Homo sapiens: one gene and its partners. The main gene of each other region encodes a partner of the protein of the gene in region 4 in a complex. Each region holds a gene or a part of one and is shown on either strand. Other genes may lie near its edges. The genes, in order: DRC10, DRC9, DRC5 and DRC7.

Region 1 (7,003 bases), on a different chromosome or scaffold from region 4:
CCCTGTCTCTAAAAAATAAAGTAAAATAAAAGGCTGGGCACGGTGGCTTACAACTGTAATCCCAGCACTTTGGGAGGCAGAGACGGGTGGATCACTTGAGCTCAGGAGTTCAAGACCAGCCTGGCCAAAATGAAGAAACCCCGCCTCTATTAAAGATACAAAAATTAGCTGGGTGTGGTGGCTTGCGCCTGTAATCCCAGCTACTCTGTAGGCTGAGGCAGGAGAATCACTTGAACCCAGGAGGCAGAGGTTGCAGTGAGCCGAGATGGTGCACTGCACTGCAGCCTGGGCGACAGAGCCAGATTCCACCTCAAATAAATAAATAAATTAATTTAATTAAATTAAATGACAAAAAAATACAACCATTAAAATAATAGTTAATATGCGGCCAGGCGCGGTGGCTCATGCCTGTAATCCCAGCACTTTGGGAGGCCGAGGCGGGCGGATCACGAGGTCAGGAGATCAAGACCATCCTGGCTAACATGGTGAAACCCCGTCTCTACTAAAAATACAAAAAATTAGCCGGGCGTGGTGGCAGACGCCTGTAGTCCCAGCTGCTCAGGAGGTTGAGGCAGGAGAAAGGCGTGAACCCGGGAGGCGGAGCTTGCAGTGAGCCGAGATTGCACCACTGCACTCCAGCCTGGGCGACAGAGCGAGACTCGTCTCAAAATAGTAATAATAATAATAGTTAATACTCAATGAGTGCGTACTATGTATGAGGGACCCTACTAGCACTTCATAAGTAAAAGTTAACTGAAAATTCTTAATAGCCCCATGAGATAGGCAGGCTTATTATCCCCCCATTACAGGATGGGTGTGGTGGGTATTTCAGGCACAGACAGATTACGTATCCTGCCCAAGGACCCACAGCTAAATAAAAGCCAAGCTTTCAGCTCTACGGTGTGACTCCAAACCTGTATTCCCAGCCATTACACTATAATTCCTCAAAGTCTGGGCCATGTATTTAGGCAGCACCTAGCTTCAATCATCAATATATACTTGCTCATATATACAGATTTAAAATACATCTTTCACTTCAGCTTTACCATGCAGCCTCTCAGAACAGTTAGAAACATACTTCCAAAATGTATGATTTTTATATCATTTTTATATAGGAGTTGTTCTCTTAGATTTAGGTGTCCGAGGAAGGGGAAAAGAGTATTTTTTTTTAACTGGTGAGTATTTTTTAATACAGTAAAAGTGCTCATCCTTAACTCCCAATTTAAAACACTCAGAGCAGCCGGGAGTGGTGGCTCATGCCTGTAATCCCAACATTTTGAGAGGCCGAGGCAGGTGGATCGCTTGAGGTCAGGAGTTTGAGACCAGCCTGGCCAACATGGCGAAACCTGGTCTCTACTAAAAATACAAAAATTAGCCAGGTGTGGTGGTGCATGCCTGTAATCCCAGCTACTGGGGAGCCTGAAGCAGGAGAATCACTTGAACCCAGGAGGCAGAGGTTGCAGTGAACTGAGATCACGCCACTACACTCCAGCCTGGGCGACAGAGCGAGACTCCATCTCAAAAAATAAATAAACTAAAAATTTAAAAATAACTAAATAAGTAAAACACTCCGAGCTAGCCTGTTACAGCTCCTATTTATGCACATTCCCGTTTCCGCTGAGAAGAACCAAAAAAAAAAAAAAAAAGACTCAGCAGATCTGACTGCAGACCTTTGAACTTGCAAACAGCAGCAGGTTCCTTCCTCAAGCTGTGGGCTCTGGGCTCAACCCACTTTGCCTCCCAACTGACCTAGTCAATGGCAGCTGAGCAACTGACTTCTTCCTCGAATCATTGGAACAACTCCAAGCAAATCCTTGTGCATCCACAGGGAACAGTACAACGTTTTGAAACAAGGCAGCGAAAGTAAACATCATTCTACTTGCTGCTAAGCCCGTAGCTCTCTGCCCAGCACACTTCCTGTGAGTTTTTTTTTCTTAAGTTTCCTCCAGATCTGGGGATTTATTTTGCTTTTAAATCTCAGCAGTGGAAAGGCAGAAGAGGAAATCCCAGATGAGACACTACTATTTGGCAGTCTTAAGAATTATGGTTGTATTGTCGTTTTGGTTTAACTTTTTACCACAGATATTTTCAAACATTCTCAAAAGTGCAGAGAATATATACGTGAACTTCCTTGTATCCATTACTCAGCTTTGACAATTATCTCCCATGTTTACTTTGAAGGCAGGAGAATTTATTAACTCACAGAGAAGAGGTTTCTTAATGTTACCATTATCATAATGGCTAGTGGTTTCTATGTTTTAACTCACGGCTGTCCAACCTTTTGGCTTCCCTGGGCCACGCTGGAAGAACTATCTTGGGCCACACATAAAATACACTACCATTAATGATGAGCTAAAAAAAAAGAGGCAGGGGGGTTGTTCATGCATAATTTTCATGATATCTGCCACCATAGATTAAAGTCCTCGCATTCAAATGCTTCAACACGGTTGTTTAACTGTTTAATATATGACTGCTTGCCTGCCTGTACTGCCTTTGCCCACTGGCTTTCAACTGGGGTGATTTTTGCCCCCATGGGGACATCGGCAATGTCTGGAGACATCTTGACTGTCACAACTTGGGAGTGGGGGGATTGCTGGTGGGTGGAGTCCAGGTATGCCACTGAACTTGCTTCAATGCACAGGTGAGACCTCCCGAAACAGAATTATGTGGCTCAAAATGTCAACTGAGCTGCTGTTGAAAAATCCTATCTTAGCTAATATCCCCACTTTAGGAATGAGGAAATTGAAGCTTGGAGTGGTTAACTTGCCTTTTATAAGTTTCAACCCAGGCAGTCTGAATCAGGGACCCTGCCTGCTTAACCATTACCCTATATACACCTACGACTAGAACCAGTCCCCTGATTTGAATTCAAACACGTCATTTTTCCAGACAGACAAAAATGAGGCCCAGAGAGGGGAAGAGACTTGCCCAAGGTCACACAGTGGAGGAGTAGGGCTAGAACCCGGGACTCCTGCGTCCTGGTCCAGTGTTCCCTCCGCGGGCTTTGCTTCTGCCTCTACAGAGGACCCAACTGGCCAGCGCTGGGGAAAGGGCCTAGGGGAAGAGGTTCAGCTACCATCCCGCTGTCCGCTGGGGCAGCCTGACCCAGGCACAAGACTCCTGTGGGGTCACCTAAGGGCGCCAGGGAGAAGAGCGAGGGAGGGAGGAAGAAGGAGGCAGGACAGCTGGCTCCAGCTCCACGTGCTCCCAGCCCCTGGCTGGGAGCCCACGTGAGGGTCGCCCTAAGAAGTCGGGGGCGAGGAGAGAGGGTGCAAAGCCCCGGCCCGGGCTGGACGGAGAGAAGCGCGGTGGAGACTTCCCTGCGCCCCCTCTGGGCCCGTACGGCCCACCTCCCACACCAGAGTGCTGCGCCGCAACCCCTTACTCCGCGTCCTCTGACCCCTGATCCCTGCCCTCTCCCTCGGGCCAAGCCGTCGCATCCCTCGGATTCTTACACGCGCCGCCCCAGCAACCCGGACCGCGCGCCGGGGTCCGCACCGCGCAGCCTAGCCCGCCGGCGCCGCCGCCAAAACCCCGAGCCCGAAGCTGTTGCAGCCGCCGCAGCCGCCGAAGCCGCCGCCACTTCAGCCACTGCCACCAGGGCAGCTGCGCCAGCTCTCCTATCCACCGCCTACCGTCCTCTCAACCCCGCTGGCCCCGCCCCATTTCCCCTTCACAGCGTCCTACTGGCTAACTGGGCTACCGTGATGAACTCTGATTGGCCAACTATCACGTCCTTCCGCAGGTCTCGCCCGCCGCCGATGCGGTACTCCCTGCCCGCCTCCTTAAGAAGGGGCGGGACGAAGAATCCACGCCCCTTACTCCTCCCTTGTTCCCCGCCTTACTCGTTGAGTCCAACCCAGAGGGAGTCCCAAGTCTTTCCATTGGTGAAAGGTCAAAATGGCGGTGCTTCTGATTGGTCAGACTTCAGGAGGTGGGGACAACTGAGCGGAACAATAAATTGAATGGTGAAAAGAAAGGTCAGTCAGACACCGAGTCTCGCCTTCTGAGATTGGCGGGTAACCTAGCAACGCAGGGACCGCGGCGGTAACTGTGGCTAGGGAAACCTGGAGCGGTCAGAGCAGGTGAGTAGCCAGTTGGGAAAGGGTCGCGGATCGGGGGAGATGTGGAATAGGGTTCAGCCCTCTGTCCTTTGGCTCCCTGAGGAATTAGAAGCCCCCGCTGCGATCTCGTCTCAGCTTCAGGACCCTGTCCCTCAGCTCCTGCCTTAGTCTGGACCTTTCGCTCCACAACCTGCAGGGAGCCGGCCTCCATTCTGCCCTTCTACCTGCCCACTTCATGGCTCCACTCCCTCATCCCTAAAACGAGGAGGACAACAGTCAAGCAGAGTCATATCGTAGTTAACTTATTTCAAGTCAAACATGGGAGCTGTGGGTGGGAGGGGAGTTTATAAGTCCCCTCCCATTTCACCCAACGGCCATACGTTCCTCGGTGAGCAGGCAATCTCACTTCAGTGTTTAAATTAGGTAGTTTTGTTTGTTTGTTTTGTTGTTGTTGTTGTTGTTTTTGCCGAGCATGGTGGCTCACGCCTGTAATCCCAGCACTTTGGGAGGCCGAGGCGGGCAGATCACTTGAGGTCAGGAGTTCTAGGCCAGCCTAGCCAGTATGGTGAAACCCCATCTCTACTGAAAATACAAAAATTAGCTGAGCATGGAGGCGCACCTGTAATCCCAACTACTCGGGAGGCTAAGGCACGAGAATCACTTGAACCCGGGAGACTTAGGTTGCAGTAAGCCAAGATAGCGCCATTGCACTCCAGCCCGGGCAACAGAGCAAGACTCTGTCTCAAATAAATAAATAAATTAGGTAATTTTTATTACACCACTTTTGCCTTTATCCTAACTTTGGAATTTAACTCCCATCTCCATCCTTAAGATGTGATCTCATTGTACCTACTGAAGACAGAGAGTTTCTTGTGATGATTAAATGAGGCTAAGGGCCGGGCGCGGTGGCTCAGCCTGTAATCCCAGCACTTTGGGAGGCCGAGGCCAGCAGATCACCTGGGCCAGCAGATCACCTGAGGCCAGGAGTTTGCGACTAGCCTGGCCAACATGGTGAAACCCTGTCTCTACTAAAAATACAAAAATTAGCCGGGCCTGGTGGCGTGTGCCTGTGATCCCAGCTACTCAGGAGGCTGAGCGGGAGAATTTCTTGAACCCGGGTGGTGGAGGTTGCAGCGAGCCGAGATCGTGCCACTGCACTCCAGTCTGGGTGATAGAGCGAGACTCCAGCTCAAAAAATAAATAAATAAATAAATAAATAAATAAGGCTGAGGTGGGAGAATTGCTTGATCGCAAGAGGCGGAGGTTGCGGTGAGCCATGATTGCACTACTGCACTCCAGCCTGGGCGACAGAGCGAAAAACCCTGTCTCAAAAAAATATATAAAAAAAAAACTTTGAGGTTCAAAAGATATTTTCATAAGAAAATGAAAAGATCAGCCACAGACACAGACATGGAGGAAATATTTGCAAATCATGTGTCATAAAAGAGTTGTATATAGAATATAAAAATAACTCTTATAACTCAATAAGAGGACAACTCAATTTTTTTAATGGGCAAAAGAGTTGAGTAGACATTTAAAAATCAAAAAGACAATACCAAGTATCATCATGTAGATAAATAAACAAACTGTAGCTTTCATATGTTGCCGGTAGGTACAGCAGAATACCAATTGGTACCACCAATCTGAAATATAGTTGGCAGTTTCTTAAAAAGTTAAACATAGGCCAGGCACAGTGGCTCGTGCCTGTAATCCCAGCACTGTAGGAGGCACAGGCAGGTGGATCACCTGAGGTCAGGAGTTCGAGACCAGCCTGGCCAACATAGCAAAACCCCGTCTCTACTAAAAATACAAAAATTAGCAGGGCATGCTGGCGGGTCCCTGTAATCCCAGCCATTTGGGAGGCTGAGGCAGGAGAATCACCTGAACCCAGGAGGCGGAGGTTGCAGTGAGCCGAGATCGTGCCACTGCACTCCAGTCTATGTGACAGAGTGAGACCCTGTCTCAAAAATAAATAAATAAAACAAAAAATAAACTTACACATAACCTAGCAATTCCACTCTTAGGAAGTTACCCCTCCCAAGTGAAAACATAAGTCCACACAAAGACTTAAATATAAATGTTCTTAGCAACATCACCCTTAACAGCCCAAAACTGGAAACAACCCAAATGTCATCAACAGGTGAATAAATAAATAACTCATGATATTTCCTTAGAATGGAATACTATTCAGCAATAAAATACTATTCAGGAATGAAATACTAATAATTGCTACAACCTGGATGAACCTCAAAAACATGTTAAGTTGAGGGTTTTTGGCCCAGTGGCTCACGCCTGTAATCCCAGCAATTTGGGAGGCCAAGGCAGGAGGATCCTAGTTTGAGCCTAGGAGTTTGAGCCTAGGAGCCTGGTAACAAAGTGAGACCCTATCTCTACAAAAAATACAAAAATTAGCCAGGCATGGTGGTATGCACCTGTAGTCCCAACTATTCAGAAGGCTGAGGTGGGAGGATCACCTGAGCCTGGGGAGGTCAAGGCTACAGTAATCCATGGTTGCACTGCTGCACTCTAGCCTGCGTGACAGAGTAAGACCCTGTCTATTAAAAAAAAAAGGCAGCCGGGCACGGTGGCTCACGCCTGTAAATCCCAGCACTTTGGGAGGCCAAGGCAGGCAGATCACCTGAGGTAGGGAATTTGAGACCAGCCTGACCAACATGGAGAAACCCCGTCTCTACTAAAAATACAAAAAAAAAAAATTAGCTGCGCGTGGTGGCGCATGCCTGTAATCCCAGCTACTTGGGAGGCTGAGGCAGGAGAATCGCTTGAACCCAGGAGGCAGAGGTTGCAGTGAGCCGAGATCACGCCATGGCACTCCAGCCTGGGAAACGAGAGCAAAACTCCATCTCAAAAAAAAAAAAAAAAGGTCAGGGTTTTTCAACCTCAGCTCTATTGATGTTTTGGGTGAGAAAATTCTTTGTTGT
Region 2 (7,022 bases), on a different chromosome or scaffold from region 4:
CTACCATTTTGCCTTCCCTTGTTCCCAAGTAGTACATTTTGCAGCCTACCAAGATGAAAGGACTTAGGAAAATAATTGTAAGAGTGCTATTGAATGTGGCTTATTTCAGTGCGAAGCCGATTTCCGAGGATTGTTTTTCTGGCGTTTGGAGAAGATGCCTAAATTGAGGGCGGAGTCGAAAGATGTTTAATCCCACAAGGCCACGCGGCGGGGCCTCGTCCTTCTCTTACCGCCATCTTGGCTCCTGTGGAGGTGAGTGAAGGGTCTGCTGCTGAAATTTGGGGGCAAATAACCGGAGTAGGTTTGTTCCTGTGCCTTGGCGAGTCGCCGGTGCGTATCGGAGTCTCTGCCAGCCATTGATTTCTACGGGTTTCAAGAAGAGGGAGAACAGGATGGAGGAGATGTTGGGCTGATGGTGTTTGGTCCCCTGACACCCGGAGAACGGCTGCCCGGGTTATCCCAGTTAAATTCCTGGGCCTGAACGGAGTGAAACGATGTTTTTGTTCGTGTGCAGTTGTCCATGAGGCAGTGCTTCCTTCATCCGTTTCCTCCCAGTCCATACCTTCCTTGGCTTGTCTGACCAGTCTCTTTCCTCAGCTTTTCTCCCCCAGCCATTGCATAAAAGTCTTACGTGTGTGTTTCTCTTTAAGGCTTCATTTCTTTTCCTGAGTGTTGCCTACTGATAACGGCATGCATTTTCTCAGGCTTTTCTGAGAGTCATTTTTGTGACTCCTGTCCCTTAGTTTTGTCTTCATTCTGAAGTTTGCTTAGATACCAGCTGTTCTCTGAGGTTTGAATGTCTTGCCGGACCCTGCGTTTCATATGGATGTTCTGGCATTGTTGTCCCCGAACTCCTACATGAAACTCCCATCCAAAAGGAATTTGCTTTAGGGGCTTAAACGAGAGGGGACGAGGTGGGAAACTTGTGTGGCTTGGTTTTAAACTAATCTTTTTGTTTGTTTTAAGGCCTGCTGGGAACGGGACTTCTAAAAGGAACTATGTCTGGAAGGTACGCGTTTTAAATATAGTTCTTTATTTTTGTGTGTTAGACGTGAACGTAAATGCGAGCTTAAAATTGGCAAGAAAAAACTTAGATGTTTGCTCTGAGTAACTTTTGGGTGGGGGTGATTACAAGTCAGATTGGTTTTTTGAAGCTTATGTTTCATGTTGTGTATCTTTTGTGTCTTAGGCTGTGGTCCAAGGCCATTTTTGCTGGCTATAAGCGGGGTCTCCGGAACCAAAGGGAGCACACAGCTCTTCTTAAAATTGAAGGTGTTTACGCCCGAGATGAAACAGAATTCTATTTGGGCAAGAGATGCGCTTATGTATATAAAGCAAAGAAGTAAGTTTATGACACTGGTAGGTTTTGGGTTTTTGAGATCTGCCTCATTTTCTTTTTTATATAACGGAGTCTTGCTCTGTTGCCGAGGCTGGAATGCAGTGACTTGGTCTCCCTCACCGAAACCTCCGCCTCCCGGGTTCAAGCAAGTGTCCTGTCTCAGCCTCCCGAGTAGCTGGGATTACAGGCGCCGGCCACCACGCCCGGCTAGTTTTTGTATTATTAGTAGAGACAGGGTATTGCCATGTTGGCCAGGCTGGTCCCAAACTCCTGACCTTAGGTGATCCGCCCACCTCGGCCTCCCAAAGTGCTGAGATTACAGGCTTGAGCCACCGCGCCTGGCCTCATTATCCTATTGAAATAATAAACAAAAGATTTAGCTGAAGTACTTGGTATTGTTTTTTTGTTTTTGTGACAAGAGTCTCTGTTGCCCAGGTTGGAGGGCAGTAGCGCGATCTTGGCTCGCTGCAGCCTCTGCCTCCTGGCTCAAGCGATTCTCCTGCCTCAGCCTCCTGAGTAGCTGGGCTTACAGGGGTGTGCCACCACGCCCGGCTAATTTTTGTATTTTTACTAGAGAATGGGTTTCCCCATGTTGGCCAGGCTGGATTGGTATTGCTGTGGCTTCTATTTTGCGTCATTAAGGAACTTAATGGGGAGTTTTAGAAGGACGTTACTTCTGAGGGTGGTGTTGGATTTAGGTACCTTTTGCACTTGTAAGCAATAAAGGAGGTAATTCCTTATATTGTGATCCTTTTAAGGTTTCTAATTTTTTTTCTCGGCTCCTTTTGCCAGAATTTAAGGATTTTTAGAACACTTGTGCTTAATGCATTTTGTTAATGCCTTAAAATTATGGGTTTTTTTTTTTTTTTTTTTTTTTTTTGGAGACGGAGTCTCACTGTCACCTAGGCTGGAGTGCAGTAGCACAATATCGGCTCACCGCAACCTCCGCCTCCCGGGTTCAAGGGATTCTCCTGCCTTAGCCTCCTGAGTAGCTGGGATTACAGGCGGCCGCCACCATGCCTGTCTAATTTTTGTATATTTAGTAGAGATGGGGTTTCACCATTTTGGCCAGGCTGGTCTTAAACTCCTGAACTTGTGATCCACCCACCTCAGCCTCCCAAAGTGCTGGGATTACAGGCAGGAGCCACGGTGCCCCGCCCCTTGTTTTTTCTTTTCTTTCTTTTCTTTTTTTCTTTCTTTTTTGAGACAGAGTTTTGCTCTTGTTATCCAGGCTAAAGTGCAATGGCACAATCTCAGCTCACTGTAATCTCTGCTTCCCGGGTTCAAGCGATTATCCTGCCTCAGCCTCCGAGTGAGGTGGGATTACAGGCGTGTGCCACCACACCCAGCTAATTTTATGTTTTTAGTAGAAACGGGGTTTCACAGTGTTGGTCACTCTGGTCTTGAACTCCTGACCTCAAGTAATCCACCTGCCTCGGCCTCCCAGAGTGCTGGGATTATAGCGCAAGTCACTGCACCAGGCCAAAATTAGTTTTTATGCATGCCTAAAGATGTTTATGCTGTAGACTTTTTTTTTTTTTTGAGACAAAGTGTTGCTCTGTTGCCCAGGCTGGAGTGCAGTGGTGTGATCTCAGCTCACTGCAACCTCAGCTTCCCCAGTAGCTGGGATTACAGGCGCGCACCACCACACCCGGCTAACTTTTGTATTTTTAGTAGAGACAGGGTTTCACCATGTTGGCCAGGCTGGTCTCGAACTCCTGACCTCGTGATCCACCCGCCCCAGCCTCCCAAAGTGCTGGGATTACAGGCGTGAGCCATCGTGCCATTGCACCTTAGCCTGGACAACAAGAGCAAATCCTATTGTCTTCACCCACTCCAAGCCAATTAAAATCTCTGGGAAAGTGTTTTAATCATTGCCCCACCTTTTCTTCTACAGCCAATGTGTTCCTTTAAAATTTTAAGTCAGGTGCAGTGGCTCACACTTGTAGCCCCAGCATTTGAGAGCCCTAGGTGGGAGGATTGCTTGATGCCAGGAGATAGAGGCTGCAGTGAGCTATGATTGGGCCACTGTACTGCAGCCTGGGTGACAAGACAACCCCGTGGTCTTTAAAGGAAATATATATAAAGTCATATCCTTTGTACATTGCTCGAACCACAGTAGTTTCTCTCATTCAGTAAAAGCCCGTCATTAAGAGCTCCATAATTCTCTTTATCTCAGCTGGGATTAACCCCTTGGTGTCTTCAGTCTTTCTTCCGGCCAGGACACACACTCCTTGGCCCCAGTGCCTGCGCTAGTCATCCCGTGATCACTTCATGGCATTTCCCCTCCCTTTCCAGTCTTTGTTCCATGGTCACCTCAGTGAGACCTTCCTTGGCTATTTAAAATGGCAGGTAATTCCTCCTTTCTGTACACACAAATATCCTCACACTTGTCCTTTTTTGCTATTTTTTCAATATTGCCTCTGTTATCATCTGACCTATGTATTTTCCTTAAACTTACTTGGTTATCATGTGAAAGATTTTTGTTTTATAGCTGCTGTATTTTACAGAAGGGCCTGGCATACAATAGTTACTCGATAAGTATCTGTTGAATGAATGGTGTTCTAGGCATTTAAAGTTTCTCAGGTGATGAAGTGGGTAACCAGGGTTGAGAGCCACTCGTGTAGAGGTCACCTTGAATTTGTATCCAACTATATCAGCTTGTATTCCTCTTCTTTCCCTTTTTAAAATCAGCAACACAGTCACTCCTGGCGGCAAACCAAACAAAACCAGAGTCATCTGGGGAAAAGTAACTCGGGCCCATGGAAACAGTGGCATGGTTCGTGCCAAATTCCGAAGCAATCTTCCTGCTAAGGCCATTGGACACAGAATCCGAGTGGTGAGTATGGTTTTTAGCAAAATGGACGTCTGATGAATCAGACTAGGTTCAAGGTGTTGTGCTTTGACTTCTGAGGACTTCTGTGGTTGTGAAATTGACACCAGTAAATTATGCTGCAAAATTTGTGTATTGCAGAACACTGGAGAGATAGTAATTGAAAGAATTAGGTGTTTGGTTGTTTGTTTTTTGTTTTTTTTTTGGGGGGAGACAGGGTCTCACTTTGTCACCCAGGCTGGGGTGCAGTGGCATAATCACAGCTTATTGCAGCCTCGACCTCCTGGGTTCAAGCAATCCTTCCACCTCAGCCCCCCAAGTAGCTGGGACCATAGGCGTGTGCCACCACACCCAGCTAATTTTTGGGGTTTTTGTTGTGTTTTTTTGAGACAAGGTCTCACTTTGTCACGCAGGCTGGAGTGCAGTGGCATGATCTCAGCTTGCTGCTACCTTTGCCTCCAAAGTTCATGTGATTCTTGTGCCTCAGCCTCCCGAGTAGCTGGAATTACAGGCGTATATACCACCATGCCCAGATAATTTTTTGTATTTTTGTATTTTGTTTCTCCATGTTGCCCAGGCTGGTCTTGAACTCCTGAGCCCAAGTGATCTGCCCACCTTGGCCTCCCAGAGTGCTGGGATTATATGCTTGAGCCACCACAGCCAGCCTTGAATAAATAGTTTTCTGGTGAAGATATTTATTGGGCACTGAAGTAATTGTTAGAAAGCAACAATTCAACAGTTACGCCTGGCATAATTGTTAATATTTTGCCATTTCCATCATGTCAGTCTTGTTAGAACAGGTGTTAGTAGCTTTATTTTGTACATGAAGAAAACAGACTCTCATGTTCCTAGGTCTCAGGTCTTTGGTGCCAGCCTTGGACTCTAAATTTTTCTCAATTTTCTCCTGTAATTTTTCTCAAATAGTTCGTACTTTTTCTTTAGGGTCCATTTTGGAATGTAGACTGTATATTCTTGGGACCAAGAATATATGCATACCATGTATTCTTGGGGCCAGGGGGTACTGTTGAACCCTGCTAAGTGGTTCATTAGGGTTTATCAACAGAGGAGGCTTTTACTCTGTCTTTAGAAGAAGCAAAATTAAATGTACCTTCAGTACATGTTTTTCTTTTTCTTTTTTTTTTTTTGAGACCAGAGTCTCATTCTGTCACCAGGCTGGAGTGCAGTGGTGGGATCTTGCCTCACTGCAAGCTCCCAGGTTCAAGCGATTCTCCTGCCTCAGCCTCCTGCGTAGCTGGGACTATAGGCACGTACCACCATGCCCAGCTGATTTTTGTATTTTTTAGTAGAGACAGGGTTTTACCATGTTGGCCAGGATGGTCTCTATCTCTTGACCTTAGGATCTGCCCGCCTAGGCCTCCCAAAGTGATGGGATTACAGGTGTGAGCCACAGCACCTGGCCAGTACATGTTTTTTATGAGTGCCGGTTCTTACGGTATGTTCACGTAGAGACTGAAGGCTATAAAAACTTTCCTTACCACTAGAACATGTAATTGGTAGCCTTTCAGAGATTTATCCGTATTACGGTTCTTGATTTGTAGACGTATATATAACATTCACCTAATGTTTTGTGTTCTTTTTTCCCTGCAGATGCTGTACCCCTCAAGGATTTAAACTAACGAAAAATCAATAAATAAATGTGGATTTGTGCTCTTGTATTTTTAAGTGGATTAAAAAACTTACTACCTTAAATTGATTTGCTACATGCTTAAAATGATAGAGGTTGCTCAGCATTTTTGGAGTACAAGGGGGTCAGAGAGACATGTGATGAAAATTACAGGGCGAGTACAGAGATTTAGAAGGGAACGGGTTTTAATGCGAGTATCTTTGACAGAGTCTTGCTCTGTTGCCCATGCTGGAGTGTAGTGGTGCTCGCTGCAGCCTCACATTCAAAGGCTCAAGCAATCCTCCCTTGGCCTTTGAAGTAGCTGGGACCACAGGCTCATGCCACCATCCCTGGGTCATTTTTAAATTTTTTGTAGAGAGGGTCTGACTCTTGCCTATGCTGGCTTCAAACTCCTGGGCTCAAGCAATCCTCCTTCCTTGGCCTCTCCTGAAGTGCTGGGATACAGTTATGAGCCACCACACCTGCCAAGTGCTTTGTGATACTATGCATTTGTTCAATGCAGATTGGGAAACTTAAAATTTGAATGGAGATTATGTTGATGGGCTTTGGCAGTTCATTTGGATAGACTGGGATGAGAAGCTCTTGGGACTTGTGACTGGACAAAGCATTCCAGTATATTAAAATAAAATTAAGCCATATTACTCCACTCATAAAAAGCAATCCTATGGTAGGTACATGGAGGTTGGGAATAGTGCACGGAAAGGTGGCAGCTTTCTTTGGCTTCATGTTTTAATCTGGTAAAGTTCAAGATTGCACTTTAAGCAGGCCTCCTAAATATTTTAGATTTCTTGGGGATATGCTAAAATAAAACAACTAAGGCATCAGTTTTGCTGTATGGTTTTTTTTTTTTTTTTGAAGACAAGGTCTTGTTTTGTTGCTTGGGCTGGAGTGCAGTGGCGTGATTACAGCTTACTGCAACCTCAACCTCAACCTCCTCGGCTCAGGCAAACCTCCTGCCTCAGCCTCCTAAATAGCTGGGGCCACAGGCATGTGCAGCCACAACCAGTTAACTTTTTAGTTATTTGTGGAGATGGGCCTCACTATGTTGCCCAGGTAGTACTACATTTCTAACTGATGCAGTAACAGTCTTTTTGTCTGCCCCCTGAGGGTTACTGATCTCTACAGCACAGGTAGTTTTTTAAATTAACATCTTTAAATTGCACTGAAAATGTCAACAAGAAACTGGGAGTTTGCCACCTAAGCCC
Region 3 (7,022 bases), on a different chromosome or scaffold from region 4:
GGGGGAAGCTGAGAGAGGGTGGCTTCTGGGAAGCTTCTCCTCATTCCAAAAAGAGAAGAAAAGGGAGCAGGTGTTCTCCCGGTTTCTGCCTCTGGGCATGTCCCTGTATGAGATGTCAGAACTGTGGCAGCCATCTTGGGACTGACAGAAGCACTAGCGAGGCATTGGCCATGAGACTGGGGTGGGCAGAGCAGAGGGTAGCACTGAACCCAGGGGTTTACCGACCCTACAACCCTCTAATTCTGGTTGTGGGAGACACTGAATATTCCTCCTGCTTAAGCCATTTCTGATTAAGCTTTTTATTACTTGCAGTCAACAGCACCCCCTCTAGAAACTGTGTGTGTGTGTGTGTGCGCGCATGCACGTGTGTGTGCGTGTATGTGCCTGTGTAGGTGAGCAAGGCTGTTCTCATGGGGAGGTTTAGTAGAGGGTTCAGTGACCTAATGGAGGGCCCTGCTCAATGGTCATCACAGCTCCAACCCCTGCTGGGCTGGGTGGGCTAGCCCCAATGTGAAAGAATTTCACGTTGGGAGGCAGAATGCTACCATTCTGTGGTTGTGACCCAGTAGTGTGTTGCAAAGTCAATTTAATGGGTCACAGAAGCATTTTAAAAAATACAATAGAATGGAATGTAAAGGAAAATATCAGCATATATCACGTCATAAATTTCAATATTATGTTTATGTCAGTGTTCATGTAAATTGCATTTTTTTTTTGAGACGGAGTCTCGCACTGTCACCCAGGCTGGAGTGCAGGGGCACGATCTCAGCTCACTGCAATCTCCGCCTCCTGGGTTCAAGCAATTCTCCTGCCTCAGGCTCCCAAGTAGCTGGGGTTACAGGTGCATGCCACCACATTGGGCTGATTTTTGTATTTTTAGTAGATATGGGGTTTCACCATGTTGGCCAGACTGGTCTCGAACTCCTGGCCTCAGGTGATCTACCCACCTCAGCCTCCCAAAGTGCTGGGATTACAGGCGTGAGCCACTGTGCCTGGTCGTAAATTGCATTTCTTACTCTCAGACTTGGTTAAGAAAGTTTTAGAGACACAGTCTATTAGAAAGGACTCAGGCTTTCAATCAATCTTGGGTTTGAATCGTAGCCTTGCCACTTGCTACTGACTTGATGCCCTTGGGCAACTCACTATCCTCTCTGAAACTTAGTTTTCCATCTAGAAAGTAGGGTTAAATATACTTAGTTATATACTTAAATATATTTAGGGTTAAATATGCTTAGGGTTAATATACAGTTACTTAGGTAACTGTAAGGATTAAAGGAAAAATAATCATTGGGATACACAGTATGTGTGCATACTTGATGCAGTATGTAGTATGTAAACTCTGTGATCTTCACAATTATCCCACAAGTACCCCTGGCAGTTGGATTCCACACCCACCCTCACAAGCCCAGAATAGGTGGCTCACCAGCCCGATGTGGTTGCAGGACAGGTTGATGCTGGTGAGTGTGGTGTTGATGGCGAGCACCTGTGACAGGAGTGTGGCGGTGGGCTCAGACAGCTCATTGCCACCGAGGTGCAGCGTGGTGAGGCACTTGTTGGTCTGCAAGGCATGGGCAAGAGCCTGGCCACCCTCATCCTCGATGCAGTTGAGACGTAGGTTGAGGGAAATGAGGTTGGTGTTGTGTGCCAGAGCGTGAGCCAGGGACTGGGCACCGGGTGCACGCACCTGGTTGTTAGCCAGGTTGAGCACACGCAGGCGGCTGTGGCTCAGCAGCTTGGCAGCACCTCGTGCACCACGGTCTCCAATGAGGTTTTGTGACAAGTCCAGCTCCTCGAGGACTGGGTGGTCCAGAAGGCTTCGAATTATGATGCGTGCCTTGTCATCATCCACCTTGCTTCGGGTCAGCTTGAAGATCTGTGGGCAGGCAGAGGGTCTACAGCAACTGCCAGCCAGGGATAATCAGCCTGCCCACCTAGATCTTTGGCAAACTTGGCTCACCTAGTGTTGGCCACCTGGCTGGGTCTTGGAGGGGGCCAGGCCTACCAGCATGGCAGAGTAGTGTAGAATTGGTGGCAGGTAGCAGGGAGGAAAGATCACTGTTTATTGAGCAATTACTACATGCTGGGTATGCTGCTTGGGTCTTCCTTTTTTATCTTTTTTTTTTTTTTTTTTTTTGAGACGGAGTCTCGCTCTGTCACCCAGGCTGGAGTGCAGTGGCGTGATCTTGGCTCACTGCAAGGTCCACCTTCCGGATTCACACCATTCTCCTGCCTCAGCCTCCTGAGTAGCTGAGACTACAAGTGCCCGCCACCACGCCCTGCTAATTTTTTGTATTTTTAGTAGAGACAGGGTTTTACCGTGTTAGCCAGGATGGTCTTGATCTCCTGACCTCGTGATCCACCCGCCTCAGCCTCCCAAAGTGCTGGGAATACAGGCGTGAGCCACCGCGCCCGGCCGCTTGGGTCTTTCACAACCATTATCTCTAACCTTCAGCATCTCGATGAAGAAGAGAAAGTTCTCTCCATTTTACAGACAGAAAATGGAGGCTTACATTATTTCCCCAGAGTAATGCAGTGATTGAAGCAGTTGAGACAGGTTTGGAATCCAAGCCTGCCTGAGGCCTCAGCCCCTCACTGCATCCTCCTCTCCCAGCCAAGATCCACCAGGGCAAGGAGAGGACCTCTTTGAAGGAGGTTGCCAGGGCAAGAACCAGGGAGACAGTGGGGAGGTGGAGAAGCAGGAAAAGGATGAGATAAAGGAATGAAGGAAAGGGGATGGGGCTGGCAGTATGAATATTGTCCATGGGAACCTCTCCCCCTCACCTTCCCGCTGGCTTGTCCCACTCCTCTCTCTCCCTTGAGACCTCTGAGTGTCTGGCCTCTCTCTCTCTACCCTTCGGTTCACTCCTTTTTATACCCCTCTTACCCAGCTGAGTCCTTTGTGTCTCTTCTCTTTTCATTGCGTCTCTCTGGCAAAGCCCTAACCCTGGATCAGCCCCACTCTCTATTTTCTGCATGCCTGTGCGCAAGCAACTGACAAAATAGAAAACATCAGCTGATGGGACTGGTTGCTATCACCGGAAACACCAATAGGCTTGTAACGCTGCATGCCAATCTAACTATATTTCTCTGGCCAAAATACCCTCTTATAATCTACAACAACTATTTCAGCTTTTTGCAGCCTCCTCAGAATTCAGGGGCCTCCTTGCTGAGCCCCCTCTTTCAGCAGGTGAACTCTCCTCTTGCCTTCTCAGTCATTGAATGGGAACCTGTCATTTTCCTGATACCAAGCACTGACTTATTGGTCTATGAACCCGTGCCTCTCTTCTACATTCATCCCCTTTCTTGCAACTGGATGGAGCCTTACACTGGTTTTAAACATATGTGAGTTATTCTGAAGGAACCCAAAGCTCTCATCGGTTATGGCTGTACCTTTTCCCCTTCGCAGCCAAGTTCTTGAAAAAGCTGATCACAGCCACCCATTCCTCACTTCCCACTCTCCCCAGAAACCACTGCTATCTGGCCTCTGCTCCTGCCACTCCACTGAAATAGCTCCCCCTCAGTGACCTCCATGTTCACTAAATCCAGTCCTCAGCTCTATTCCACCCCGTTGCTCACTCCCTCTACTTGAAACATACCCCTCCCTTGCTCTGTGACACAATGCCATGTTTCCCCATTTCCTCCTCCCTCTGGCTTCCTGGCAAGCTCTTCTTCTTCCACTGAGACCACATGCCAGGCCTCTTGTTGTCTTGCTTTTGGCTCTCCCCTGTGAGACTCCATCCAAACCCAGGGCTGCAACTGCCACCTTCATGAAGATGGCACACATTCCCACATTCAATTCAGACCTCTCATCTGAGCTTCGGACCCTCTACCCAACTAACGAAATGACCCCTTCTTTGAGATGCCTCAAACTGAAACTTACACTCTTCCCCCTCAAAACTGATCCTCTTCCCACATTCCCTGTCTCTGCACATGGTCCCTCCAGCCATCCAGCCTCACAAGCCAGAGGTCTTGCACCTCACCTCCTTCTCCTTCCTTCTCCTTCAGATCCTCCCTGTGCCAGTGTGGCCAGGTGCATGCCAGACACATGTCTGCCTAAATATGTGTTGACTCTCTCCACTCCTTTGAGTCTCCACAGACACTACCCTCGCTGAAATGACCCTCACCCTCACCTGGATTTGGCAGTGATCTCCTAGGTAATCTGCATGTCCACTGCTGCCCTGCCCAGGCCATCCTCCCTCACAGACGGAGTGACATTTTCACATGTGAAATCCAGTAATGGTACCTACTTTTTTGCCTAAAACCCTTGGATGGTGTCCCAGAGCTCCTAAGGATAAAGATAGCCTCCTGGACAAAGCCTCCTTCACCCAGCAAGGCTGACCACCTCACACTCTGCGCCAGCCACACAGTCTTCTCTTTCTCTTTGAGCTGGCCATGTTCACTCTGCCCATAGAGCCTGTATGCACTGCTCCCTCTGTCTGGAACGCTCCTCCCTCTGAGACTGTAACTCGTCCTCCTCCTTCTAATCTCTATGTAAGTGACATTTGTTCAGGGAAGCCTTCCCTTGCAAGGTCAAATGCTCCTTTACAATCTCTCATAAGAGTATCTCTTCTTTATAGCATTCATCCCAATTCAGGGGTACCAGAAAAAAGTACAGGATGCCCAGTTAAAAATAAATTTCAGATAAATAAGAACGCCCCATGGAATATTCGGGACATACTTATAAAAATTCTTTGCTGTTTATCTGAAATTCAAAATTTTTGGAGACAGGGTCTCATTTTGTAACCCAGGCTGGAGTGCAGTGGTGTGATTGCAGCTCACTGCAGGCTTGAACTCCGAGGCTCAAGGGATTCTCCTACCTCAGCCTCCTCAGTCTCTGGAAGACTACAAGCGTGCCTGGACCTGAAATTCACATTTAACTGGATGTCCTGTATTTCTATTTGCTACATCTGGCAACCCTATTCTAGTATCAATTTTATGTTTATATGATTGCTGATTAGTGCCTTTATCCCATCAGACTGTTAGCTACAGAGGGCACAAATGATAATCTTGCTCATCCTTGAATCTTCAGCACCTAGGACAGGGCCTGGAGCGCAGCTGTTTGTTCAATGAAACCAACTGGTGAACTGGGAGAGCAGCGCCTTGTTCATCTCTACACCCCCAGAACCGTGTATCTTGGTGCAGGGTGCATTAAAAAACACTTGGCCAATGAAAGAGAAGGAAATAGGAAGAAGGCAATAATAGAGGAGGAAGAGGAGGGGAGAGGGAATCTGAGAGATGCTGAGAAGGGGTGGGGGGAAGGCTGGGAGCAGACAGTACCTTGAGGGTGTGGCATGCCTTGATGGCGGCTGCCAAGGAGAGGCAGTCACGGTAGGTGAAGAGGAAGAGATTCCACTCGAAATTCATGCCGCAGTCCTTGACATCGTACACCAGGTCCAGCTCCTCCAGGTGGCTCAGGCCAGCTACCAGATCGCCCAGTTGGTAGTGGTCAACGGTGGGCTCCTCCATCTCTCCCTCGCTGCCTGAGTCGGACTGGTCGCCCGGCCGGAGCTGGGCCGGGAGCTGCACCGGCGGAAGGAACTGATCGACGTGGACCCTGCGCACGTAATTCCGGCAGAGCGGCAGCAGGTCGAGGATCACCGCAGGGTCTGTGGTGCCTGGGATAAAGTGCTTTAGCAGGTTCTCCAGGTGCCGCTCGAAGAACATGCGTTTCCAGCTGCCGCCATGGTGGGCCACGTGGCACACGGGCCAGCGATGCATGCAGCAGCGGAGCCAGTAGTTCTCACTGTCTATCAGGTTGGCGGTCACAGCCAGTGGTAGGTCAGGGGACAGGTGGTTCAGGACCTTCTGCTGGTGTTCCGGGAGCATCTGCTTCAGGATAGGGTTTTCTTTGGGAACAGAGGAAGGAGCGCAGGGGGTCACAGTGTTGGGGGACACCTCAACATGATGCCTCAGGCTGGGCCTGCCTGGGAGCACCAGGCAAAGGAGAGACCCTTCCCTGCTTAGGGGATAGACAGCCTCTGCTCTCAGGGGGGCTCAAGCAGAGGGTGGGACACAGCCTTTAGCTTTGGGATGTTCCCTGCCTGAAGGTGGACATCTCAGCATCTGTTCTCAGGGAGTTCCCAGACTGAGGAAGACTCTCAGGTCCAACTCTCAATTATCACCTGGTCTGATGGGGGATACAATCCCTGAGGTCAGAGGCTTCCAATCTTATTTGATTCATCCATTTCAAAACAAGAAATTTTTTGAGCACCTACTATGTGCCAGACACTGGAGGTAGCACTATGAGAGACTACTATGTCCCACGTGCTGGAGATAGAAGAGTAAGCAAACAGGGCTCTCCCTTTTGGAGTTTACATTCCAGTGAGGGGAGGCTGACAATAAACAAGTAAAATGAGTGAGACTGGGTGATGATAGTTGCTGTAGATGAAATAATGGCCCTGTCCTCAGACAGCGCCCCATCTGGTAGGAGAGGCTGGCAGTCCATCTTTGGAAAGGATCAATATTACAGAGCACAAAATATGGAACAAACCAAGAGCCCTTACATGGCATGGAAGACTCCATCAGAGTAGAGGGCGGTTCACTTGGGAAGGCTTTCTGGAGGAGGAAGTAGATATGGCTCAGGCTGGGTTTTGCTGGAGAGAGTAGAAAAGGCAAGGAGAGGGCAGAGGCATGGAGGGTGCAGTGTGGGTGGGAGTCTGGTGGGACCTGCCAGTGGGAACAGAAGGAGAAACTGTCTTGGCCCTGGGTGGAAGGGAAGTGTTGAGTGGGTATGAGGATGCCATACGGGAGAGCAGGGGCTGCCCCAGGACCCAGCTTCTGCAGTCTTGGCTCCGGACAGTCCCCACCCACCTAGCCCCCCTCTTGGCCTTCTCCTGCCCACCTAAAGCAGGGACAGACTCACTCTGGAAGTTCCTGATAATGTGCTGAATGCAGAGCTCTGTGAGGAGGGGCACGATGGCCAGTGACCACTCAGGATCCTCAGCAATGATCCGGCGCATCCGACGGATATTGGCCCTGGGATGTGGGTTCCTGGACTTTGCAGGGACTGGTGTGATTGAAGG
Region 4 (7,935 bases):
GCCCACCTCCCCGTCCGGATGCTGGGTGCTGACGTTGACTGCAAATGGATGCGCTTCGCTTCCCCTCCCAGCCCACAAGCAGTTGAAAGACAGGAAGGTGGGCCCTCACTTTATGCAAGGCGCTGTGTTCCTGGAAGGGAAATTCTGGGGCGTGGACATTGCATCATTTGAGCCACAGGAGCAGTTCTGGTGGACAAACTTGGTGTGTTTTGGGGCTTATCTTCACAGACATCTGTTTCTCACACTGAAGGTCTCAACTTCCTTATCTCAAAGCCTCAGGGATGGTAACCTGAGAAACAGCTGTTCCACCATCTGATAGGTCTGGGCTTAAATCCTGGCTCGGCTACTTAGGAGCTGTGTGATCCTGGGCATTTTACTTCACCTCTCTGAGCCTCAGTTTCCCCATCCATAAAATGGGGATTATAAAGTCCTCACCTCATCCTGACAGCATTAAATGAAGTGACAGAAATAAAGTGCCCAGCACTGACTCCGCAGGAGTTAGTCAGCTCCCCCACCCTGCCTTGATTTAAAGAAAGACCAGCCAAGGGTAATGGCATGAGGAAATGGAGGTCCAGACAGGCCCAGCCACCTGCCCAACTAAGGTCACTCCATGGGCTGGGTTGAAGCTAGGGCCAGGCCTCCCCGGGTTGCCCTCATCCCAGAGTGGTCCCTGAGTTTAAGGATTATCACCTGGTCCTTGACTGGGCTTGGTGGCTCACACCTGTAGTCATAGCACTTTGGGAGGCCAAGGCAAGAGGATTGCTTGAGCCCAGGGGTTCGAGACCAGCCTGGGCAACATGGTGAAACCCCGTCTCTACTAAAATACAAAAAAAATTAGCTGGACATGGTGGCGTGCGCCTGCAGTCCCAGCTACTCAGGAGGCTGAGTCAGGAGAATTGCTTGAACCTGGGAGGTGGAGGTTGCAGTGAGCTGAGATTGTGCCACTGTACTCCAGCCTGGGCAACAGAGCAAGACTCTGTCTCTTAAAAAAAAAAAATATATCTAGGCATGGTAGCTACTTGGAAGAAGAAGCAGGAAGACCACTCGAGCCCAGCAGTTCAAGACTGCAGTGAGCTATGATGACGTAACTGCACTCCAGCCTGGATGACAAATCAAGACCATGTTTTTAAAAAAAAAAAGGAGGAGAAGAAGGAAGAGAAGGAAGGAGGAGAAGGAAGAGGAGGGAGAAGGAGGAGGAGGAGGAAGAAGGAGGGAGAAGGAGGAGGAGGAAGAAGGAGGGAGAAGGAGGAGGAGGAGGAAGAAGGAGGGAGAAGGAGGGAGAAGGAGGAGGAGGAAGCAGAAAAAAGAAGAAGAATAAGAATTATCATCTGGTCCCAGCCCCCAGTCTCAAGGAAAATCCTGGGTTGCAGAGTTTCCCAAACTGCTTAGTGGGATGCTTAGTGCTTGTTGTGGGACCAACAAGACCGCAAGTCCTGGATGGCTGGGCCTCCTGGCTCAGAAGGAGAGGGCAGATAAGAAGGTGTGGCTAGCATTGGGGGTGCACTGCTTTTCTGGCTTGCTCTCCATCCTGGGGCTAGGCAGGGGCTGAGGGGCTGGAGTTCCTCATCACCTGCGGTTCCTGCAAAAGCAGCTCCAAGTGCCATGTTGAGCACCCATAAGGCCAAGGGGGCTATGGTGAAAATACACCCCAAAGCCCAGAGCAGATGGATGGAGTTCCTCCGTCATTGCACAGCAGCAATAGCAACCTAGGAGGTGGGCCATCATCACAGGTGGGAGCACAGACCCTGATCTCCGTTCACCAGTTTCAAATTCTGTCTTTGCAACTTGTCTTGGGCAAATTCTTCAACTACTGAGCCTGTAAAGCAGAAACAGCAGTAGCTGCCCCACAGGGTTAATGAAGGAAATGAATAAATGAGACAGTGCCTGCAAGGACTGCCCACTGCCTGGCCTGCCTGGCCCAGAATGAATGTGACAAAGCCAGAGCTTTGCCTTGGCCATCATCTCATCAGGTCCTGGGTACAGAGAGGGTCCCTTCTGCCATGGCTCCTGCCTGGTTCTCTCTTCTGCCCAAATCTCTTCATTCCTTGTATTTTTTCATTACAACATAACAAATACACAGGAAAAAAGAAGACTTATTTGCTCCATGCTGTCAGATAGGCAACACTAAAAGATATAAATCCTTCATCAGTTAATGAATTCAATGAAATTACAGTAAAGATTTTGGGGCGGGCACGGTGGCTCACATCTCTAATTTCAGCACTTTGGGAGGCTGAAGCAGGAGGATTGCTTGAGCCCAGGAGTTCCAGAACAGCCTGTGCAACATAGCAAGACCCTGTCTCTACAATAAAATAAAATAAGGGAAAAAAATAAATATTCTAATTTATTTTTTTTTGCTTCTCCAGAAACTTTTAAAATTGATATGGAGGCATATAGACCTCAAATAGCTAAGTCAATCTTAATGAAAGAGGGCATACAGGAGGTGGAGGTTGCAGTGAGTCGAGATCATGCCTGTGCACTCTAGCCTGGGCGACAGAGCTAGACCCTGTCTCAGAAAGAAAAAACAGAAAGAGGGGCATAGAAGGAAGACTTGACCTCTAGACATAAAGATATTACAAGGCCAGTTTGGTAAATGCAACGTGGTGTCTGTGCAGGGATAGGAAAGAAGATCAGTGGAACAGCACAGAGTGCTCAGAGGCAGACCCATGGACACCTGGGGGATTTAATACGTGACAAAGGTGGCATCATTATTTTCAGAGGAGGAAATACCTAAAACTAACACATTAGTTCATGAAGACACATTTAAAATCATTAGTCATCAGAGAGCTGCAGACTGAAATGACAATGAGACCTCATTGTATCCTTATTAAACTGATGAACTAGAAAGCTAGATGGTACCAATGGGCAGGGACGATATGGGAGCCAGGGAGAGTCTAGACTGCTTCAGCTGCCTGGAGAAAAACACAGTGCTTCTGCTGAGCCAGCAATCTTGCTACTGGTTGTTTATCTTGAAGAAACATTCTTCCAGATCTAGACCCCTCTAGACCTGTGTAGCATTGTCTGTGATGGAAGGGAGCTGGTAGCAAATCTGAGTGGTCTGTCCAGCCCACCCAATGTCTGCTGGGGAGTTCCCTCAAGACTGCCCCAAACCGTCAAGAGGTAGGGCCAGTTGGAATTCCAAAGAAATAAACACTAAGCGCCGGGGTGATCCGTATCCATCCAAAGCATTTATTAGGGAAACGTACATAGGGAAGGCTGTAGTGTTCTCATGACAGACAGCAAGAAGGGAGATGAGTCTGTTCATAACGAGGAGGTGGGTTTATGGAGTTTATATGAGTGTTTAAGGGATTCGGTTCAGGGCTGGGGCACGTTTAGCATTTGTTTGATCTTTCCATGTTTCCAGCAACAACCTAAACAACTATCAGTGCCTGGGGACATTGAAAGCTCCCTCTAGAACACCTGGACACCGAGTGCCCGTCACTGGAAGGACGAAGAGGTAATAAGTGTGGATCCACACAATAACGTGGAGAGATCTTAAAAACACAGCCCTTCATGAAAATATAAGAACCAGAAGGATATATTTGTTCAGTCTCATATTAAACATATATTAAAAACACCAGCATGCCAAACAATACTCATTTTGGAAAAAAAAAATACACATCAGAATGGTTACTTTATAGAGGTGGGAAATGAAAGTGGGTATGAAGAGAAAAAGGAATGAATAAATATGTAAAAGGAATGAAGTGTTGCATAGGGTTGAAAAAGGACAATGAAGCCTATGCTGCATCCCACTAGCATAACGCATCACCTGTTTTCCTTTCTCCTCCCTCCTCCCTTCCTGCCTTCATCCCAGCCAGTTCCCCACAGAGGTAATTACGAGTTGCTTAGCACCAAGTCTGAAATACTACACACACTGTCTCGTGAGCTCTCCACAGTGCAATTGATCCTTTAGCACCAAGTCTGAAATACTACACACACTGTCTCGTGAGCTCTCCACAGTGCAATTGATCCTTTACAGCTTATTTTTATGGCTGCATGATATTCCAGCTGGGAGGGGGAACATCATTCTCTATTCATGAGAATTGAGGCAATTCCTAAGTTTCTAGCAGTAACACTAACTGTGCAAACTTGTCAGCACAGTGACAGTCTGGATTCCCTCCTGGCAGCCCTATCCCCTGACCAAAAAAGGCCCATGCACCCCTCCCTCCAAAAATAAAACAGTGAAGATTATATTTTAGGACTGTATTGGTAAAAACACAGATATAATTCAGGGCAGATTCACACTTATATAGTCATTATTATTCTCATTTTTTTCTTCTGAATTTAAAAGAAATTAAACATTTTCATGAGCCACTAGCCTAATGGATAGGTTTTCCCCGTACTTCGAGGTAATGTTCTACATCACAGCTCCGGCCTGGACTAGAACCCAGGACTCAGTCAAGGCAGCCTGGTTCTGTCCACCGCAGCTGGCAGCTACTCCAGGCCCCACACTGGTTTCTGTCTGTCTCGATCAAGGCCACATTCGGCATGCCGTGGGGCAGGGGCTGTGCTGTGCTGGTAAATGTTTAACAACTGGCTGGCTCAGAGGAAAAGCCCTGGTCTTGGCGTTTGCTAATTTTTGTGGTGTAAATAACCCCATGGCCAATTTTTTTTTTTTTTTTTTTTAGAGAGGTTCTCACTATATATTGCCCAGGCTGGTTTTGAACTCATGGGCTCAAAGGATTCTCCCGCCCTGGCTTCCCAAAGTGCTGGGATTACAAGTGTGAGCCACCGTGCCCAGCCCTCTTAATTTTTAATAATGGCTGTGTTTCACAAAAATTTTGGAAAGTTTAACAACTATCAAGTTGATGCCCCACTATACCAGTGCACCGCTGGCAGAAGGACCCATGAAACCTGGGAAGACTACATTTCCCAGAAGCCTCCTCTCCCAGGACCGGCGTTCAGCTTCCCAGGTTGTTACCATGGAGATGGCTAACAGCTAGAGCAGGCTGTCCTCGGAGGGGTGAGGAGGGAGCAAGGGACTTGGGGTGGCTGGACCCTGTCTGGCAGGGAAAGGGTGAGGCTGGTGGCCCCCTTCTGCCTGGGGGCCTCCAGCCCTGATCTTTCTGGGGAAGTTGTTGGTGGGGTGTGTGTGCGTGTTTATGTGTGTTGGGAGGAGGAAGTTGCTGGTGGAGAGGGGGTGCAGGGAAGGGCCGGTGGGTTGGGGCAGAATCTAAGGAACCTTGAGATAAGACTGCCTTCCCCACACTGGGCTATAGCTGAAGAGGCCACCTGTGTAGGGAATAAAGTGCTGTGGGTTCTTCTCCCCAGCTCTGCCTCTGATGGTGTTCTGGGACTGACACGTCGGCTTCCTCTTCAGCCTACTTCTTTCCTTGCCCACCACTCCCCCACCCCCACCATCCCTTCTAGCACTTCCCCATCTCATATCTCTTCCAGCCTGAGACACACAGGTTTCACAACCAGAAATACAGGGGTTCAAATCCCAGACCTGCTACTTACTGGCTGTACCTTAAGCAGTGCACTTAACTTCTCTGGGCCCCAATCTTCTCATCTGCAAAGTGGGTGTCCTCAGTGTCTGCCTCATAGAGTCAGTAGAGGATAAGTGAGATGATCTCCGTACAACCCTCAGCACAGGTCTGACACACAGTAGGCATTCAGCAAACTGTAAATGCCTTGTAATGGTGATGACTGCCCTTCCTGGGCTCATTGTCTCTGGGACCAAGAGGCCAACAAATGGATCTGATCACTGAGAAGTGCTGCTTGGCTAGAGGTTCTCCCCTGAGGATCTGGGGTCCTGAATGGTGTTGGGCTACCTAGGCCTTGGGTGGCTTCCAGCCAGATGAGCATTCGTCCCCTCCTGAGTCCCAGAGCACAGAATGTCAGAATTGGACAGAAAATATCTGCCCTCCCTTCCTACTATAAAGAGAAACTAAGGCACAGAAAGGCGCAGACAGTGACCCAAGGGTCCAGCAGGAGCTACTGGCAAAGCCAGGGTTTCCCCAACCAGGCTCAGTCGTGGCTGGTGGCCAGGGACTCACCTCCCTAGGAGGCCGAGGTGGCCCATGTGGGTGTGGAGTTGGAAATTGGGGCCAGCCTTTATCTGCTGCTCCCTTCTGCCCTCTTGCTCCTGGCTTCACCCAGGGAAGTGGGGGATGATTAGAAAATCAAGGGGATTCTGCTTTTTTTCCTTACTACTCGCCCCCTTTGTCCTGTGGGTTTCGTTTGTTTTCCTCATCTCTGGACCCCCATTTGCCGTAAGGAAAACAGATGTTCGAGGACAGAAATGGAAAGACCCCAGCTGGGAGGCTGCAGATAGTGCATCAGCTGGGATGGCGTTGGGTGGTGTGGAACAGGGACCCCCATAGAAGCTGAGGTTTCTTATATAAGGAAAGGCTAGAGGTGGCACTCCAGGCCTCTGTGGCACTGCTGGGGACCCCAGCTCCCCCATCTCTCGGCCCTGCCGTCCATAGCAGGCAGCTTTAGCCCTCATGTGTGGCCACCTCATGGTCTCGCCTTGGCTGCCCCACCTCCCACTTTATCTCCACATTCCAGGTGGGAGGAGGAGAAGGGCAGAGGGCTCCCCAATCACTTCTGCCCACATCTCATTGGCCAGAACCGGGTCACATCGCAGGGCCACCTCTAGCTGCAAGAGAATCTGGGAAGCTGAGCAATTCAAACCAGGCACACTGCTGCCCCCCACACAACTGGGGTTCTGCCGTATAGAAGAGGAGACTGGATCTTTGGGTAGGTGACTAGCAGTCCCCGCTCAGTGTGGCTCTGCTCTGTGACCACAGGACATATGGTGAGCACATGTGGCGTCTCTGCGTGGATCACAGAATGAAGCCTGTTCTCTGGGCCAACACAGGCCTTGGCCAAGAGAGAGTAGGCTGTGTTACCCCCACCCCCCACTCCCTGTTTGTATGCCCTGGTGCAGGCACCTTCACTCTCTGTGCCTCGGTTCCCAGTTTGATCAGGTGAGATATCATTCACCTGCCATCCTCATTTTTGGGTGGGTTGTAGATCATATCACCTTACCGTTAGGATTTTCTTTAAACCAATCTATTTATTTATTATTTATTTGAGACAGAGTCTCACTCTGTCACCCAGGCTAGAGTGCAGTGGTGCGATCTCAACTTACTGCAACCTCTGCCTCCCAGGTTCAAGTGATTCTCCTGCCTCAGACTCCTGAGTAGCTGGGATTACAGGCGTGTGCCACCACGCCTGGCTAATTTTTGTATTTTTAGTAGAGACGGGGTTTCGCCATATTGGCCAGGCTGGTCTCGAACTTCTGACCTCAAGTGATCCACCTGCCTCGGCCTCCCAAAGTGCTGGGATCACAGGCATGAGCCACCGCACCCAGCCAATTCATTTATTTAAATAAGAAACTTGACAATACTATAGTAATCCCCACAGCATTCACAGTACTTGTCATTGATAACTGTCAGCTGGCACAATGGCTCATGCCTGTAATCCCAGCACTTTGGGAGGCCAAAGCAGGAAGATCGCTTGAGGCCAGGAGTTTGAGCCTGGGCAACATAGCCAGACCCTGTCTCTACCAAAAAAAAAAAATAGCCAGGTGTGGTGGTGTGCACCTGTGGTCTCAGCTACTGGGGAGGCTGAGGTGGGAGGATTGCTTGAGCCTGGGAGTTTGAAGCTGCGGTGAGCCATGATCGTGCTGCTGCACTCCAAGCCTGAGTGACAGAGCAAGACCCTGTCTCAAAAAAATAAAAAATTTAAAAAAAAAGATAACTGTCAAATATACTAAAAGCAAATCGACACGTGCCTTTCCCTGTCCTGTCCTGAGGATGGCTTCCAACCGGAGGCCTGCTTTGTCTTTGTTGTAAAGGAATATTTGCCAGGATTAGAAAGGTGTTACAGATGGGGTAGCACCAAACAGAGACTTTCTCCATGTTTGAAAGGAAGTCAAAGAGGGAATCACTCCCTATGTGTTCGACACCTCCTCAAAACCATCTCCCA

What was found.
Region 1: DRC7 (region 4) and DRC10 share a complex: the UniProt entries of both Homo sapiens proteins name them as parts of the nexin-dynein regulatory complex.
Region 2: DRC7 (region 4) and DRC9 share a complex: the UniProt entries of both Homo sapiens proteins name them as parts of the nexin-dynein regulatory complex.
Region 3: DRC7 (region 4) and DRC5 share a complex: the UniProt entries of both Homo sapiens proteins name them as parts of the nexin-dynein regulatory complex.

What each region holds. Positions count from the first base shown.
Region 1 is NC_000012.12:113,218,079-113,225,081, reverse strand, and holds the start of DRC10 (dynein regulatory complex protein 10), read left to right. Parts: upstream 1-3,987; 5' UTR 3,988-4,085; intron 4,086-7,003. UniProt on the Homo sapiens protein: Component of the nexin-dynein regulatory complex (N-DRC), a key regulator of ciliary/flagellar motility which maintains the alignment and integrity of the distal axoneme and regulates microtubule sliding in motile axonemes.
Region 2 is NC_000003.12:197,949,970-197,956,991, forward strand, and holds part of DRC9 (dynein regulatory complex protein 9), read right to left. Parts: intron 6,642-7,022; exon of another isoform or gene 5,805-6,641; coding exon of another isoform or gene 5,781-5,804; intron 4,179-5,780; coding exon of another isoform or gene 4,034-4,178; intron 1,343-4,033; coding exon of another isoform or gene 1,190-1,342; intron 1,010-1,189; coding exon of another isoform or gene 999-1,009; exon of another isoform or gene 967-998; intron 331-966; exon of another isoform or gene 221-330; intron 1-220. Other genes in the region: RPL35A (large ribosomal subunit protein eL33), read left to right, coding at 999-1,009, 1,190-1,342, 4,034-4,178, 5,781-5,804. UniProt on the Homo sapiens protein: Component of the nexin-dynein regulatory complex (N-DRC), a key regulator of ciliary/flagellar motility which maintains the alignment and integrity of the distal axoneme and regulates microtubule sliding in motile axonemes.
Region 3 is NC_000006.12:44,280,687-44,287,708, forward strand, and holds part of DRC5 (dynein regulatory complex subunit 5), read right to left. Parts: coding exon 6,863-7,022; intron 6,594-6,862; exon of another isoform or gene 6,504-6,593; intron 5,847-6,503; coding exon 5,278-5,846; intron 1,874-5,277; coding exon 1,424-1,873; intron 1-1,423. UniProt on the Homo sapiens protein: Component of the nexin-dynein regulatory complex (N-DRC) a key regulator of ciliary/flagellar motility which maintains the alignment and integrity of the distal axoneme and regulates microtubule sliding in motile axonemes.
Region 4 is NC_000016.10:57,689,893-57,697,827, forward strand, and holds the start of DRC7 (dynein regulatory complex subunit 7), read left to right. Parts: upstream 1-4,913; 5' UTR 4,914-4,960; intron 4,961-6,510; exon of another isoform or gene 6,511-6,571; 5' UTR 6,572-6,702; intron 6,703-7,935. UniProt on the Homo sapiens protein: Component of the nexin-dynein regulatory complex (N-DRC) a key regulator of ciliary/flagellar motility which maintains the alignment and integrity of the distal axoneme and regulates microtubule sliding in motile axonemes.